Linked DNA regions of Homo sapiens. The protein of the gene in region 2 interacts with the protein of the main gene of each other region in a pairwise test. Each region holds a gene or a part of one and is shown on either strand. Other genes may lie near its edges.

Region 1 (4,202 bases), on a different chromosome or scaffold from region 2:
TCATCTGCAGCAACACGGATGAAACTGAAGGACACTATGTTAAGGGAGTTATTTCACTTAACAGAAAGACAAATATTCCATGTTCTCACTTAGATGTGGGAGCTAAAAAATTAATCTCATGGAGGTAGTGAGTAGAATAATAATTACCAGAGGCTGGGAAGGGTAGGGGACAGAGCAGAGGGCAGCAGGTTGGTTAGCAAATACAAAAATACAGTTAGACAGAAGGAATAAGTTCTAGTGTTTGATAGCACAGTAGAGTGACTACAGTTAACACTAGTTTATTGTATATTTCAAAATAGCTACAGGAGAAGATGTGAAATGTTCCCAACACAAAGAAATGATAAACATTTGAGGTGATGGATATCCCAACTACCCTGATTTGCTCATTACACACTGTATGCATGTATCGAATTATCACAGGGAACCCATAATTATGCATAGCTATTATGTATCAATTCAAAAATCAGTGAAACAACTGAAACATGAATCTTAAACCAACATCACTATTGTTATCAATATTTTATTCAAACAAGTTTTTATATGGTACAAAGCTATGTAAACAGTGAGTAGTCTATTTTTTTTGTTTGAGATGGAGTCTCACTCATGCAGTGGTGTGATCATGGCTCACTGCAGTGTTGAACTCCTCGGCTCAAGGTATCCTCCCGCCTTGGCCTCCCAAAGCACTGAGATTACAGGTGTGAGCCACCACGCCCAGCCTAGGTGAGTAGTCTTAAATTCAGATGTAATAAACCTGCAAGATCATTCCTACTCTGTTAAGCCCCCCAAATCAAAATTGACTGGTGAAAACCTGCCTAGAAGGGCAACCTCCAAAAGATCTGAGCTTTTGTTTTAGGAAGGACTTCAAATAACAGCAATATTTCCTGCACTGGACCAAGCAGCAGTGGAGTGAATAGAAAACATGAGATCTCTTCCTCTCCAGTTTTCCTTTAAGAAAGTGCACAGGCTAGGCGCGGTGGCTCATGCCTGTAATCTCAGCACTTTGGGAGGCCGAGGTGGGCGGATCACGAGGTCAAGAGATCAAGACCATCCTGGCTAACGTGGTGAAACCCCGTCTCTACTAGAAATACAAAAAATTAGCTGGGCACAGTGGTGGGCGCCTGTAGTCCCAGCTACTCAGGAGAATGGCGTGAACCCGGGAGGTGAAGTTTGCAGTGAGCTGAGATAGCGCCACTGCACTCCAGCCTGGGCAATAGAGCGAGACTCTGTCTCAAAAAAAAAAAAAAGAAAGAAAGAAAGTGCACAGAATTTCAAGGATCTACAAAAGTGGCATAACTTAATCAATCTGTAAGTAAGCCTAAGAAAAAACCACGGTCATTAGTAGAGGATCCAGTTTTGTGCACTGATCAAAGCAGTGGTTCTCAATCTTGGCTGCACATTACAATTACGGGGGATTGGGGAGGAGGAGTTACTTTTTTAAATATCCATACTCAGGCTCCACTCCAGACCAAATTGGTATTTAAGTTAAAATGCTGGGCATCAGTCATTTTTAAACACTGCCAGGTGATTCTAACAGCAGCCAGGTTTGAAAACCACTGGAGCAAAGGTTAATCACTTGGGCAGAGGACAAGAACACATTTTGCAATCACGTTTTTCCCTTGGGTCCTCTTTCCTTCTGGAGCTTATGAATTCTGGAGGGTGTAGAAGCAAAATGTCACTTTCCCTTGCTTCAGTAAGACTAAGAACTTCCTATATCATTCTATTAGTCTGTTTTCATGCTGTTGATAAAGACAGACCTGAGATTAGGTAATTTACAAAAGAGGTTTATTGGACTTACAGTTCCACATGGCTGGGGAGGCTTCACAATCATGGCGGAAGGCAAGGAGCAGCAAATCACATCTTATATAGATGGCAGCAGGCAAAATGAGGGCTTGTGCAGGAAAACTCCCTCTTATAATAACCAAAAGATCTCGTGAGACTTCCTCACTATCACAAGAACAGCACGGGAAAGACTTGCCCCCATGATTTAGTTACCTCCCACCAGGTCCCTCCAACAACACATGGGAATTCAAGATGAGATTTGGGTGGGGACACAGCCAAACTATATCAATCACCATCAGAAAAGAAAGACGTTGCACCCTGAGACAAAACAAAAATGATAGGGTCATCTAACTGTTGATGATCTAAAAAACAATAAAACCTTGAATGTTTCCCATAAACCTGGACTCCCTAAGAAATTTTATCCTTGGTTTTTCCTGTACTACATCTGAAGATTTGCCATAACCTTTATGAATACAATAATTACATGAGGCAGTTACTGTTTTTCACCGTGAACAGTCTAATGCAAACTCAGAAACCTTGGCAGTTTTTAATTTTTTCCTTCAAATACTTACGTTTTTTATTAGGCAAGCCAGTCATTCTCTTGCTCTCTTTGCAGGTAAACTTTTCCTTTTCTAAATGCTTCTGTCTCTGAGTATTTCTTCAACAAGGGTAAAGATTCATAGAGTGCTTGGACACAGAACTGGATACTCTGCTCCTGGGGGCAGAGTTCACTGCAAGTGATAAGGGAAAGAGCTGAGAAATGAGAACCTGCTCTGTCAGCCCAAGGGTCTTTGGAGCTGTAATCCAAGATCTAGTTTGACCATAAATATATTCTCTTGGCTGGACTGAATAAATCTCAAAAGTTGGTGTCAGATTCCTTTGTTGTAGGCTTCCTAAGCCTTCTTGCCTATATTCACCTCAACTACACTGTGCCGAGTAATTTCTACAAAATTCTAAATCAAAAATTACCCCAAAGACATAGACAAGTACTAGAAATGAACAAACAAAAACACACACCAAGGAACCAAGAGTTTAGCTACTTTCCTTTTCTAAAACTGGGTAAAACCTATTACAATAAGAGTTACTGGCTCTTCCGCTGATAGAAATTTTGTCATGGCAAATTTTACTTAAAATAGAAAAACATAAGCTTGGTGAAGGCAAGGATCTCATCTGCCTTCTCCTATTATATTCCCAGGGCCCTGGTTACTGAACATGGTAAATGCTCAGTAAATATCTGTTAGATAACTGAAATGCATGAATTTGGAAAACTTTCTGGTCCGCACAGATGAGAACTGTAATAATATCTCTTGCAAACTGGGACTCCTCTTAGAGCTCACTCAAGTAGAAATCTTACCCTCTTAGGAGAAAGCTTTCTTTCTTGGTAAAAATCAAACAATCCACAAACCTTGTCTAACACGCTCTTCCAAAAAAGTCTGCAATTTGGTGTGATTTTGTTTTTCCAGTTCTGATGCAGATGAACCAGGCCATCCATCCCAGGACCTGCCAATTTTCATCCCATTCAGGTATCGATTACCAATATTTATGAAGCCTAGCACTTCTCTGGTACAGAGCAGACAGTGGACATTCCCTTTTGATGATAACAGCTCCTGCATGCAGAGTGGTGGGAGTAGGAGGGTAGAAGTAGCCACTTTCTGGATGGGAGCAATGTCATCAACCCAAAGGGAACCCCTTCATAGGCTAACCAGCAACTCCTGAGGCAAGGCCCAATAAGGGCAATGGCATCTACTCAAGTCAAACAGGTTTCCTCCGGAATCTGGACCAGAGATACACAGAGGAACTCCTGAGGCAAGGCCCAATAAGGGCAATGGCATCTATTCAAGTCAAACAGGTTTCCTCTGGAATCTGGACCAGAGATATATAGAAGATGGGCCAGGAATGCAGAAAACGAGTGGTCCCAAGGAGGGGCAGAACTGCTGTGAGAGAGGCAGAGAGCAGCCCATTTATCGTTCTCAGACCACACACCTTCTGGTTCCAAGGTGGTTCAGAGGGATCTCTGTAAACGAATGAGCACAAAACACAGAACCATTCATTTGGCAGAAAACTGAGATCAAAGCTGTACCTGCTACTGCAAGGACAAAAAAGAAAGTTCATTAATACTTAGTCTACAGAGCCTCACATGCAGTAAGCCCTCAAGCACTTGTGCAATGACTGAACAAAAATTGCAAGCAGAGATAACAAAACTTTGAGGTAGTTGCCCAACATAACTTTTCTTTGAGTTCACTTATTCAGTACATGGGTGCTACTGATATGATCATAATGCGCCTAAAGTCTGAGATAATACCTTAAAAGTATGTGTTTATTCTCTTCCTAAAGCTACTCTCTTCTGGAAAAACTTGATTAAGAAAAAAATCTAAGACAAAAAACACAAACACAACAAAATATTAAAAATAGAATTACCATAA
Region 2 (7,035 bases):
TAAAATGTAATTTTCAAGCCAGGCGTGGTGGCTCACACCTGTAATCCCAGCACTTTGGGAGGTCGAGGCAGGCAGAGCACCTGAGGTCAGGAGTTCGAGACCAGCCTGACCAACATGGAGAAACCCCGTCTCTACTAAAAATAGAATATTAGCTGGGTGTGGTGGTGCATGCCTGTAATCCCAGCTATTTGGGAGGCTGAGGCAGGAGAATCTCTTGAACCTGGTAGGCGGAGGTTGCAGTGAGCCAAGATCACGCCATTGCACTCCAGCCTGGGCAACAAGAGCGAAACTCTGTCTCAAAACTAAATAAATAATAAATAAAATAAAACGTCACTTTCACACTAATGCTGTCTAAGAGCCTGCTTCTGGTGGAGCTGAATCAGAGAACCCCTCAAAAGCAACAATTTTTTTTTTTTTGAGACAGTCTCACTCTGTCTCCCAGGCTGGAGTGCAGTGGTACAATCTCGGCTTTGGAACCTCCCCCTCTGGGGTTCAAGCAATTCTCCTGCCTCAGCCTCCCAAGGAGCTGGGATTACAAGCACCCGCCACCTCACCCCGCTAATTTTTTATATTTCTAGTAGAGATGAGGTTTCACCATGTTGGTTAGGCTGGTCTCAAACTCCAGAGCTCAAGTGTTCTGCCCACTTTGGCCTCCCAAAGTGCTGGGATTACATAAGCCACCATGCCTGGCCATAAGCAACAATTCTATCAGTGCATCTCCAAGGACTTATGAAAACAGGGCAGGAACAGCTGCTCCTGGACTCTCAGTTTCCCCAGATGGAAGCAGAGAAACAGCAGCCTTGCCTTGTCCTTTCTGTTCTCCCCTTTTCCAGCCTACGGTATCTTTCACACAGCAATTCACTAGAAATGAGAAGTACATTATTGCAAAATTCTCATCTTCATATGACCCCATAATCAGCTGAACTGGGTTCACCCTGAGATGTCCACAGATCCTGGCCAAATGTTGCATCAGTATTTGCAAATTGCCAGAATAAATCATAACTTGCTACGCTACTAAAGTCAGCGTGAGCAACAAGATACAGCCTGACACGGGGCATAAATGGAGGCACAGGCACCAGAAAGAAAGTCAAGTCTTGTGTGATAAAATTCATCTTCATTCTCTACATTGCGATTGAACATAGAGTCGTTTTCTAGTGTGTTTTAGGCATATAAATACAGGCTGGGGACATCATACCTGTGCTTACAGATATTTTACTTTTATTTTATTTATTTACTGAAACAGGGTCTCGCTCTGTCACCCAGGCTGGAGTGCTGTGGCGCAATCACAGTTCACTGAAGCCTCAACCTCCTGGGCGCAAACGATCTTTCTGCCTGAGCCTCCCAAGTAGCTGGGACTACAGGTGCACACCACCACGCCTGGCTAATTTTTGTATTTTTTGTAGAGATGGGATCTTACCAAGTTGTCCAGGCTGGTCTTGAACCCCTGGGCTCAAGTGATCCTCCTGCCTCATCTTCCCAAAGTCCTGGTATTACAGACGTGAGCCACTGCGCCCGGCAAAGATATTTTATTCTGTTTAGAATTGTGATGATACAAATTTGAACTCAAAAAGTACATTTTAAGAAATTATATAATACCCACTGGGATGGCTATAATTTAAAAAAAGAAAAGTAAGTGTTGACAAGGATGTGGAGATATTGGAACCCACATATATTACTGGAAGGAATATAACATGATACAGCCACAATGGAAAATGATTTGGCAGTTCCTCAAAAAGTTGAACATAATAGTCACCATATGTCCTAGCAAATCCACTTCTAGGTACATACTCAAGATAATTTACAGCGCGGAGACAAACAGATACTCCTACCACAGTGTTCCAGCACCATTACTCGCTTTAGCCAAGAGGTGCAGACAACACAAATGTCCATCAAAAGAAGAACGGGGCCAGGCACAGTAGCTCAAGTCTGTAATCCCAGCACTTTGGGAAGCTGAGGCGTGTGGATCACCTGAGGTCAGGAGTTCGAGACCAGCCTAGCCAACATGGTGAAACCCCCTCTCTACTAAAAATACACAAATTAGCTAGGCATGGTGACGGGCGCCTGTAGGTCCAGCTACTCAGGAGGTTAAGGCAAAAGAATCACTTAAACCTGGGAGGCGGAGGTTGCAGTGAGCTGAGATTGTGCCACTGCACTCCAGCCTGGGCGACAGAGCAAGACTCCGTCTCAAAAAAACAAAAACAAAAACAAAAAAAAGAATGGATAAGCAAAATGTGGTCTATCCATACAATACGATGCTTTTCACCATGACAAGAAATGAAACATTGATGCATGCTACAGTACAGACAAACTTTGAAAACATTATGCTAAAGAGAAAGGAGCTAGTCACAAAGGATCACATAGTGTATGAATCCACTTACACAAAATGTCCAGAATAGACAAAATCATAGACACAGAGAAGCATATGAATGGTTGGAAGGGCCTGGTGGGAAAGTGGGAAATGAGGAGTGACTGCTTAATGGGTACAAGATTTTCTTTTAGGGTGATGAGAATGTTCTGGAATTATGTAGTGGTGATGGTTATACTACCTCATGAAGATACAAAATGCCAGTGAATTGGACACTTTACAAGGGTGAATTTTTGGACTGTGAATTATATATCAATAAAAAAAGAAAGAAAATAAATGATACAAGAGCTCAAAATAGAAAAGCTTCTCTTCCTCCTCCCCCTCACACCTCACTAGATCTCCCACCTCGTTTCTGATACTTCTGTGTTCCTCTCTCCCATTAGATTTCATATCTTTCTCAGAAAACGTTCCTGACGTGAATTGTGTTCGTAGTGCTAGGGTAGCAGACATTTCCCAAGCCTACTATCATGGAATAAAAACGTTTCAAATAGTTATCTTGCAAGAACACTTTGGAGGATACCTTTTTGAAAACCGATTATACCAGCACAGACTGCTAGCAACAACCTTCAGCAACTTTGGCTCTTTGGAGTAGGTTGCAGGAAGATTATGACTTGCTGAAAGGAAGGATGATTAAGCATCTAGATGCCAATTTATATTCTGCATTTGGCCCTTAAAGTCTGGATGAGTTCCTGTTTCAGCCGAATGCTGCCAAAAGCTCTAACTTTTTAATTTTTTTTTTTTTTTTTTTTTTTTGGAGACAGAGTCTCACTCTGTTGCCCAGGCTGGAGGGCAGTGGTGTAATCTCGGCTCACTGCAACCTCTGCCTCCCAGGTTCAAGCAATTCTCCTGCCTCAGTCACTTGAGTAGCTGGGAATACAGGCGCCCACCACAATGCCCAGCAAATTTTTGTATTTTTAGTAGAGACAGGGTTTCACCATGTTGCCCAGGCTGGTTTCGAACTCCTGACCTCAGGTGATCCGCCCACCTCGGCCTCCCAAAGTGCTGGGATTACAGATGTGAGCCACCTCGCCTGGCCCAAAAGCTCTAATTTTTATGAGAAACTCTGAGGACAGAATCTTAGTCAATTGTTAATGAATAAGCAACATTAGAAAAAAAATTCAATATTCACCTATTTTTGAGAATTTTAGAGTTATAACAAACTCTTGATTATATATATTCCTGAAGTACCTACTCTGCGTAGGTCCTGGTCCTACTCCCCAAATGGGTCACTGAAAAATTCACCCCCATTATTCCCCAAATCCCACCCTAGTTTTTCATCATGTCATATGGCAAACAACGCACTCTGTGCTGTTTTACACACCAGCTTCTTCAGAACCCGGAAGCACTTTAGAGGTTATCTCCCCTCATCCTCCACCCCCCAAAACACAGCAGTTTCCCCAATAACATTGAGAAAATGGGCTTTAAAGTTCTTCTAGGCCGGGTGCGGTGGCTCATGCCTGTAATCCCAACACTTTGAGAGGCCGAGGCGGGGGAATTGCTTGAGGTCAGGAGTTTGATACCAGCCTGGCCAACATGGTGAAACCCCATCTCTACTAAAAACAAAAAACAAAAAACAAAACTGAGCTGGATATGGTGGTGGGTGCCTGTAATCCCAGCTATTCGGGAGGCCGAGGCAGGAGAATTGCTTGAACCCAGAACCCAGGAAGTGGAGGTTGCAGTGAGCTGAGATTGTGCCACTTCACGCCACCCTGGGGGACAGAACAAGACTCTTTCTCAAAAAAATAAATAGGCCGTGTGCGGTGGCTCACGCCTGTAATCCCAGCACTTTGGGAGGCTGAGGCGGGCAGATCACAAGGTCAGGAGTTCGAGACCAGCCTGGCCAACATGGTGAAACCCCGTCTCTACTAAAAATACAAAAATTAGCTGGGTGTGGTGGTGCGTGCCTGTAGTCCCAGCTATTCGGGAGGCTGAGGCAGGAAAATTGCTTGAATCCGGGAGGCGAAGGTTGCAGTGAGCTGAGATTGCGCCACTGTACTCCAGCCTTGGTGACAAAGCGAGACTCTATCTCAAAAAACAAACAAACAAACAAACAAACAAATAAATAAAGTTCTCCTTGTGCACTTTAAGCAAAGGTGATCATGAAGCAGATCTCATTGGGAAAAACATCTCCTTTCTAATTATCTTACCTGTTTTCATTGAGGGAGCTTCAAGTTCATCGTGTTTATCTAGAAAATAGGAGGGAAGAAAAGGAATTACACTAATCATACAGGAACCTTGGGGACAGGAGTCCTCACGTCCTACTTATAGACATCCTGTTCTTCTTTGGGAAGCAGAAAAGAGAATGGCTTCTCCATTCCCTAGATGCTCCCTGGGTCCTCAGAGCATGGACAGAGCCTCAGATTACTCTTCTTAATAGTCCTGGAGTTTGATAGTATTTTTAATAACAAAAATATTTATGAATGACCCTGCTAACGCCCCCTCCAGTTTGATTCCTTGCCAGTCTTCTCTATCTTGACAAAGAACACCATTCACCCAAATTCTTTCTTTCTTTTATTTTTTTTGAGTCTTGCACTGTTACCCAAGCTGGAGTGCAGTGGCATGATCTCAGCTCACTGCAACCTCCGCCTCCCGGGTTCAAGAGATTCTCCTGCCTCAGCCTTCCAAGTAGCTGGGACTACAGGCGCCCGCCACCACACCCTGCTAATTTTTGTATTTTTAGTAGAGACAGGGTTTCACCATGTTGGCCAGGCTGGTCTCAAACTCCTGGCCTCAAGTGATCAACCTGCCTTGGCCACTCAGAATACTGGGATTCCAGGCATGAGCCACTGCACCTGGCCTATATTTCTATCTCCACAGTGGCACCATTTAGTCTAAGTTAAAATATCACCTACTTGGCCGGGCGCAGTGGCTCACGCCTGTAATCCCAGCACTTTGGGAGGCCGAGGCGGGCAGATCACAAGGTCAGGAGATCGAGACCATCCTGGCTAACATGGTGAAACCCCGTCTCTACTAAAAATACAAAAAGTTAGCCGAGCGTGGTGGCGGGCCCCTGTAGTCCCAGCTACTCGGGAGGCTGAGGCAGGAGAATGGCGTGAACCCGGGAGGCGGAGCTTGCAGTGAGCCGAGATCGCGCCACTGCACTCCAGCCTGAGGGACAGAGCCAGACTCCGTCTCAAAAAAAAAATAAAAATAAAAATAAAAATGAAATGAAATATCACCTACTCACCAGTCCCTGGCAACCACCAGTTGCTTCTGTGAGTTTGGCTTTTTTAGACTACACATATGAGTGAGATCCTGCAGAATTTGTCTTTCTGAGTCTGGCTTATTTTGTTTAGCATGATATATGCGGAGATGTTGATGAAAGGGTATAAGTTTCCAGTTCTAAGATGAAGAAGTTCAGGTGCTCAGCATGGTGGCAATGGATGTGCTAATTAATTTGACTGTGATAATCATTACACAATGTACAGGTGGATCAAATCATCAGATTGTATACCTTGAATATATACAATCTTCATTTGTCAATTTGATATTTTTAAATTTAAAAAGTCGTATTGCCTGAAACGCACCAACTCTTACTACATCTAGTCCCTTATTTTCCAAAAGCAGCCAGAGGCCGGGCATGATGGCCTGTGCCTGTAATCTCAGATGCTTGGGAGGCTGAGGTGGGAGGATTACCTGGGCCTGGGAGGTCAAGGCTGCAGTGAGCTGTGATTGCACCACTGCACTCCAGCCTGGGCAACCGAGTGGGACCCTGTCTCAAAAAAAAAAAAAAAAAAAAAAGCAGCCAGTGACCCTTCCAGCATATAAATAAAATCATGCCATCCTCCAGCTCAACTTCATCAGTGGGTTCCTGTTCTTTCAAAGCAGACTCTAGGACCAGTTCAAACACCCACAAGATCCTAGATGCTCTAGGCCCTGCCTTATGTCCTCCTTTCTGTGTCTCAATCATTCCAGGAACACTCACACTTCTGAGACTTTGCTTTTGCTGCTCTCTCTCCCTGGAGGGCTGTTCTCCAGATATCGGTGTGGTTGGGTCATTCTCATCCTTCATGCTTGTGGCAGATAGACCCTAAGGGGGCACTCAGGAGACTCAGGAGCCCTGCTTCCTGGTGTTCATGCCTTTGTCTAATCCCCTCACCTTGAGTGTGGAGATCTGTGACTTTCTTCTCACCAATAGCTATGGCAAAGGTGATGGGATGTTATGCTCTTGATTATGTTACATTACATAAAACTCTGTTTGCTAGGGCATTTGCTCTCTCTTTCTTCTCTCTCTCTCAATCTCTCTTCTTGCAAGTGCTGCAGAATCATTCTAGCATGAATCCTACAGCTATAAAGAACCAGATATTGCTATCAACCACAGGAGTGGAGAAATGGACCCTTCCCCAGTCAAGCCTCCAGATGAGCCAGATGAGAACACAGCCCTTGTTGACACCTTGATTGCATCCTTATGAGACCCAAAGCAGAGGACTCAGCTAAGCTGTGCCTGGACTCCTGACCCACATCAACTGTGAGATAATAAATAGGTGTTTCAGGCTGCTAAATTAGTGGTAATTTGTTATGCAGCTGTAGATCACTAATACAATGCCTCTCACAGTTATTCTCCATCTATAATGTGTTTTTTAATTACTCTGATAGCTTGCTCTTATTTCTTTCTTTCTTCCAAAGAAGAATGTGAGCTCCTGTTGGCCAGAGACCTGGTCTGTCTCAGT
Region 3 (7,035 bases), on a different chromosome or scaffold from region 2:
CCTAGTACCTAAGGGCAATGGCCTCTGACGGGGCTGAAGGAGTTTGTAGCAACAGTGAGGCTTCAGCCTGCAAGAATAGGGGGCCCCAGGCAATGTGATTTCCTACGACACTGGCTGCTTTTGCCTTTGCTTCCCCCACCAGCCTCCTCTGACTGCTGAGCTGCTCAATTTGTCGTCCGTGGTGACAGGCAGGGGTGCGTTTCAGCCCCCGCCCACCCCCGGCCACAGCCCATCTGACGCTCGGCCTGCGGAATCCCTCCGCTGCCTCCCTCCTACCCTGAGCTCTTCTTTCTCTCCAGTCAGCACTGTCTTTCCGCTGGCTTTCATCCTTCCTCCTACACTGTCTCCCACACCAGCCTAGACAGAAAAAACAACCTCAGGTCATCCGAGCATGCCTGTTCCTTGGTGCCAGACCAAACCAAACCCATCTCTGCTTCTAACCAGGACATTAGGAGGTGACCTGGTCCCCGAGCACCCCTGGTGAGGACGTGGCCACCCAGTGCTCCCTGCTGGTGTCTTGGGGCTGTCCCGGCTACAGGCCCCACACAGCATGGCTGCCACAGAACCTCCTCTTCCCACCTCTGGACTCTCCCAGAGCATTCTCTACCCTTCCCAGAGGAGACCTGTTGACCTGGAAACTGACTCACATCGTCTCATCTTCTCTTCTGGTCTAGATGTTCCCCACAGGTAGAATATCTGTCTGGCTCACCTTTGCATACCCCCCAGTCTCGATTTGCTGGATGCATGCACAGAGGTGACAAGATCGAGTGCACTCTGGGGGGCGCCTGATGCAGACCTTCATGGCCTCCCCCTAGTGCCCAGGCTGGACCACTGCAGCTCAGACCCTCGGGCTCACCCGCTGTGATTTCATCGGCACTGGGAAGGAAACTGTCTCGGGAGGAGAGATTCACGGGACTGGGGTCGGGGTGCAGGACCTATGAGGACAGGACACAGGGCCCCCCCGCCCCTCACTTTCCTGGCTGAGCCTTCACTGACCTTCATATTTGTAGGACGACTTATTCAGGGGATCGGCCAGGAAGCAGGAGCAGAACAAGGACACCAGCGGGAGCTCCTTCATCTTCTCTTTGTAGGCTGCGGAAACACCCAGTCAGGTGAGGATGGCGCCTCTCCTAGCCTCAGAAGTCAGCGTCCTCACGGGTCTGGGGCTCTGAGCAGCCCAGGGTTCCATAAAGGCACTCAAACCACGCAGGCACACGCCAAGCCTGGGGATCCAGGCCTTTCGCCCTGAGCCGTGCTGTTCAGGATCCCTGTGTGGGATTCGAACCCACTCCTGTCTCCTGTGGAAACCTAAGCCTTCCAGAGCATCAGATCCTTCTCCACAGTATGTCTCCTCCCCTTCCAGACCAGAAAGCAAAATGCCCTCATGGAAAGGTCCCAAGCACCAGTGCCTCAGCTCTCCATCCCCCAACATCTGCCCCAGGACATTCCGATTCTTTTTCTCCAGGACACAGGAGACCCACACTCCATTCTACTCCAAATACCTGGCAGCGCTGGCCTGCAGGGTTAAGGAGCTGGATAGGAGGGGACCGTCCTCACCACCATCCCTCTGGTCTGCCCCTCACAAGGTCAGGCTATAAGCCTTCTCTGACCTTTCCAACACAGTGCACAGAGCCTGGGGGTCGCTGGTGTCCCCAAAAGCTGGAGCATATCCCCGCCACCCTCTAGTCTATCTGTGTTTGGGATGTCAGGGGCCAGAGCTGTCCTGGCTCCTGAAAGTCCCTCTCCTCACCGCCTTGGGGCCCGTGTGTCTGGCTGCTCAGGTTGCAGCCCTTAGCTGACCCCTAGCACAGCGCAGGTGTTGCCCCCATCCTCATTTGCTTGTACAATTTTTTGTTGAGATGAGGGTCTCAATATGTTGCCCAGGCTGGACTCAAACTCCTGGGCTCAAGCGATCCTTGTGCCTCAGACTCCTGATACTGGGGACTATAGGCATATGCCACTATACCTGGCTTCCTTTTACAGATTTGAAAATACGTGTAACTGCAAAAATAATATATAGGCATCATAAAAACTTAAAAAAAAACACACATATACAGATGAGCAAAAGGAAGAAAATCTCAGCTGTGACACACCCCCCACCACTTGTTCAACTTGTCGCCTGTGGTGACAGGCAGTGGTGTGCCTCCCGCCACTGCCTGCATGCCCCCAAGCCTCCCATCACTACCTGCACCCCCCCACACACCCCGTGTGCTTCCTGCCAGCTGTGTTCTTCCCTGCTTCTGTGAGTCCATGTTGGGTGAGGGCAGGGGGAATAGCCTACGCCCCTTAACACATGGTTTTTGTACCTACCAGCAAGGGTCATGTTTCTGGGATCTGGTGGCTGAATCTAGCTGAAAGTTACAGAGTGGGTCTGTCACCAGCTTGGGACGCTGTCACCAACCTGAGAAAAGGGGAGGACAGGATTTTACCATCGATGGATTAGACAGGTTATTCTCATAAGAAAGGTCTTTATACACTGGGGAGGGAATCTCAGGGGTACCTCATTTGCTCTTCCTCCAGGCCCTCTCCCCACCAACTCTCCCTGGGGGTCCCCTACCCCGACCTCCCTCCCACAATGATGCTAAACAAGCTCAGATTCCATGAACTAATGATACTTCATAATTGGCTTTCCAGTCTCAAGCCCCCTAGCACATGCAAGCGTGGGTTTCCCAAAAACGTATGGATCAAGGGGTGCTCATCTGTCTCCCTCCATAGCTCAAGAACCTGGCCCAATTCAAGGGTTAGGGTGAGAAGCAAATCCTCCTGCAGAATCAGCTGGGAGGCATTCATAAAATAACTGTGTGTCCTGGACTTCTCCCCGCACATGCCCCAGAAGTCTTTGGGCCAATTCTGATATGGGAAGAGAGGGAATTGGACATAGGATGTTAACAGGCCTCTTCAGATGCCTCTCACCTTCCCTTTCCCAAGACGACTGACCTAAGCTGTGTTTGACCCTATTTAAGACAATCCGGGACACAGGAAAGAAAAACATTAAGGAATCATGTCGTCATCACAGGGCCAGCCAGCACACCACCAGAAATCAGCGTGAGGAATTGCTGTGGGACACAGAGATAGGGCTCCACACCACCAGAAATCAGCATGAGGAATTGCTGTGGGACACAGAAATAGGGCTCCACACCCCCAGCATTTGCCAGGGAGCCTGGGAGGTGTCCCTGGTGTCGGTAGCACCTGAGCAGTGCCTTGAAGGATGAGTTAGAATCAGACAGGAGCTGGCAGGAGGGCATTGTGCAAGGGAACATCACGGCCAAGGGTCGGGGTGAGAACGCCACTCAGTGTCCGTGGGATCAGGTCAAGCTAGTTGACGCTAGATCAGAAAGTGGAAAGAGGAGGGGGCGGGGCAGGAGACAAAACAGGAGAGTCAGGGAAGGAGCAGATCTGGGAGGATCAGAGGGGTGGAGGTGATGGGAGCCCATGAAGGCTACTACAAAGAGAGTGAGGAGCAGCCAGCAGTGAGTGGCCATCCTCAGGACCATTTGATCCTCGGTCACCCTCTGTGGTCACTGTGCCAGGGGAGGGTGGCGAGAGCCAGCAGGCTCACTGCCTACATCCTTGCCAGCCAAAGAGACTCTGAGACCCACTTCAAACCCCTTGCCTTTCTGTGCTGGCTGGAGACTGGCAGGAGGAGGTAATGGGGCAGTGAACTCAGCTCTGGCTTTAGGGCTAGACCAGTGTGGGGTCAAATACAAGTATCACCTCTCTTACCAGCTCTCGCTAGTCTCTTTCTCCATCTTAATCCTGCACAGAGCTGTACAAATTAAATGAGAAAAACCCATGCATAGCATCCAGCAGACAGGAAGCACTGAATAAATGTTAGTCTCTTTGCCCTGTCTTTTGCATCAGGACAGCTATCAGGTGCCACATGCCTGCTTCAGAGCCATTACCTCTGGACCCACAAGTAAGGACTGTTGTTGCCATGTGCGGATGGGGAAACTGAGGCTCAGAGGGTTTATGTGCCTGCTCAGGGCAATGCAGCTAGCAAGTTAGAGTGCCCATTTGAACCGAGGTCCAGCTGGACTTAAACTGCTTTGTTCTCCTTGTTCTTGTTGTTGTGCTTTGGAGCCAGAGGCCCCTGTCATTGCAGCACAATGGGTCTTCTCTCTGCAGAACTAAGCTGGTCCTGACGGCACCAGTGAGTCCCTGAACAGAGAGGCAGGCCTGGTGCCTGCATGCGACTTCCCTGGTCATGACACCCCATCCCGCAGTCTCTGCTCATGGCCAGGCTGACTGACAAGTCACTGGCAGAGTTAGTAAGCCCTTGCCAGAGTGGCAGTGGCCTTGGACTTCTACCTGGGGAAAGGATCAGAAGTGGAAGCCTGAATAGGTGGAGGGGAGGCAGAGAGGGATGCCTGAGAAAGAAGGCAGATGGAGTAGGAGCAGGCAGTTGGAGTTATGGAATGTGCCTCCAGCCCGAGCTAGAAATGATGATAGGACCCTGTGCTCAGGGGGCACTCGACACCCACCACATTATCCTAGTCTAACTTTGCATGAAGCTGGCTTAGGCTGACAAGACAGGCATCATCAGCTTTGCTTTCAGATGAAGAACCTGGGGTTTGGAGAAGTTCAGACGCTTGCTTAAGGTCACACAGCTCTAAGGGTGCAGAGCTGGGTCTAGTCTCCAGGTCTCTCGACTTGTAAGCTCTTCCATTGTAACCAGTGGAAGAACTAGATACTCACTAATGCTTTCTCTATGGTCCTGAGGACTCACAGAAAGCCAGCCTGGCCTGGGGATATGAGTTAACTTTAAAATATGTGGTAAGTGCTTTCTACATGGAAGGAAATGGGCTAGGAGTTTTAGGAACACAGAGAAGGTCAGAAAGCCAGAAAAGGAAAACCAGGGCAAGAAACGAGATGTTGTAGAGGTGGGCAGAGGTATGCATGGTCATGATCAAGGGATTTGCAATGGAGACCTCTCAGTGTTAAAAATGTGTGCTTACTGAGCAGCTGCTATGTGACAAACTCACTTTAATTTTCGTAATAGCCTCGTAAGGCAGGAATTACTATCCCCATTTTATAGAGAATGAAATCGAGGCTCAGGGAAGCTAAGTGCCTTTTCAAGGCCATTCAGTACAGTAGGTTAAATAATGTCCCCTACATGCATACATGCTCATCCTAACTCCTACAACCTGTGAATATGAGCTTATTTGGAAAGAAGGGCTTAATGAAGGATCTCAAGAAGAGACATTCCTGCTTGCCTGAGAAAGCCTTAAACCCAATGGCAAGTGTCCTTATAAGAGAGACTGAGAGAAAAGGCCATGTGCAGACGGAGGCAGAGATGGGAGTAAGGCAGCCACAAGCCAAGGAACCTTTGGGGCCGCCAGAACCTGCAAGAGACAAGGACAGATCCTCCCCTGGAGTCTTCAGCAGAGTTCAGTCCACTGACATCTCAGCTTTGAACTTCCAGCCTCCCGGTTAGTGGTAAAGTGATGCAGTAGCCCCGGGGAAACTAATGTCCTCAGGAAGTGACAAAGCCAGGGCTCAAACCCATGGTTTTTTTCACCTCAGGTACCAGCATTCATACATGGGCTGATTTATTCCTCAAAATGATCTATGTGGCCAGGCGTGGTGCCTCATGCTGTAATCCCAGCACTTTGGGAGGCTGAGGTGGGCAGATCACTTTGAGGTCAGGAGTTTGAGACCAGCCTGGCCAACATGGTGAAACCCCATCTCTACTAAAAATACAAAAATTAGCCCGGCATGGTGGCGCATGCCTGTAATCTCAGCTACTAGGGAAGCTGAGGTAGGAGAATCACTTGAGCCTGGCAGGCGAAGGTTGCAGTGAGCCGAGATCGCGCCACTGAACTCCAGCCTGGGTGAGAGAGTGAGACTTTGTCTCAAAAAAAAAAAAAAAAAAAGATGATCTATTTACTTGTGCCTGTGGGTCCATAGGGCCCTTATAAATCCTCATGCCAACAGTCACATCATTTCTTTTGCACTCAAGACCCAAAAGATATGCCCAGGGGACATTCTGAGAAAGGACACAGAAGATAAAAAGGTGGGAAGCAGAGGGCACAGAGATGAAAGGAGTCTTTGCCACTGGGTGGCGCCAGCCATGGCAGGAAACCCAACTTTATCCCTAATAACCTGTGGCATCTGCGCCCAGTGGGGCCAGTCACATGTCCCTCCCCAGCACCTGGCCTGGTTGTGTGATGCTAGGTTGTCTTGTGGGGTTTGTTAAATGGCCATGGTCATGTTATCATGCCACAGCAATATACAGCCTGCAAGGGAGCGAGGGCCACCAAACCTCTCCTGGAACTGTCAAAGAAGGACAGTAAAGGTGTTATGCCCAAGGTCAGAGCACACAGAGTGCCAGGGATTCAGGTGGCATGATGAAGATGAAGAGACAATAGAGGCCATAGGAAGCATGAGGCAAGGAGTGCAAATCCTCAATGGGAGATTCTATCCAAGACGTCAGCCAGCAGAGCAATGGAAGGCAAAACCCAGTGCAGAAGCAAACCTCCATCCCCATCCCTCAGAGGTTCCTTATGTGTTTTCTGTTAGGTGAGAGCCAATCCTAGCCCTTCTATTGCCCCTAAGGAAGACCAGGAAATTCATTGCATCCAGCAGCAACAAAGATCAAAGGAGCCCCAGACAGAAGGTCAATGTGGCAGTCATTCAGCCAATATCCAGAACCAGAGCTAGAGCTCAGGATGGCAGGCCCTCCAGCTCCTGCCTGGTGGTCACTGTCAAGCACTTCTGATGGACACAAACTGGTTGGTCAAGAGCCAAGGCCTCCCTGGGCAGCTGAGCCCCTGTGCTGGCAGGGATTGATCCAGTGGAGCAGGTAGAGAGAGGACTCTATTTATTTATTTATTTATTTATTTAGTATATAATTCTGTGCCAAGCCCTCTGCTAGATCTTCAGATGGCAAAGATTCGAGTGTGGCCTCATCCCAGACTGTGATGAGGTTACTATGCAATTGAGGTTCTGCAGTGCCTATCACCTTGCAATGACTGTGAACCTGACTGTGTGCCAGGGATGTGGACTGGGTTTACTCAGGAACACAGGAGGCCCACT

Evidence for each region.
Region 1: the proteins of VSTM1 (region 2) and SLC60A2 interact in binary tests that used the Homo sapiens proteins (3 or more experiments, as listed by UniProt).
Region 3: the proteins of VSTM1 (region 2) and STMN4 interact in binary tests that used the Homo sapiens proteins (3 or more experiments, as listed by UniProt).

The regions. Positions count from the first base shown.
Region 1 is NC_000006.12:111,276,308-111,280,509, reverse strand, and holds the end of SLC60A2 (sodium-dependent glucose transporter 1), read right to left. Parts: 3' UTR 505-4,202; downstream 1-504. UniProt on the Homo sapiens protein: May function as a sodium-dependent glucose transporter. Potential channels for urea in the inner medulla of kidney.
Region 2 is NC_000019.10:54,046,898-54,053,932, forward strand, and holds part of VSTM1 (V-set and transmembrane domain-containing protein 1 isoform 1 precursor), read right to left. Parts: intron 6,078-7,035; coding exon of another isoform or gene 6,002-6,077; intron 4,552-6,001; coding exon 4,513-4,551; intron 1,507-4,512; exon of another isoform or gene 1,418-1,506; intron 1-1,417.
Region 3 is NC_000008.11:27,241,401-27,248,435, forward strand, and holds part of STMN4 (stathmin-4), read right to left. Parts: intron 3,326-7,035; exon of another isoform or gene 3,190-3,325; intron 2,402-3,189; 5' UTR 2,324-2,401; coding exon 2,311-2,323; intron 1,093-2,310; coding exon 997-1,092; intron 358-996; coding exon 277-357; intron 1-276. UniProt on the Homo sapiens protein: Exhibits microtubule-destabilizing activity.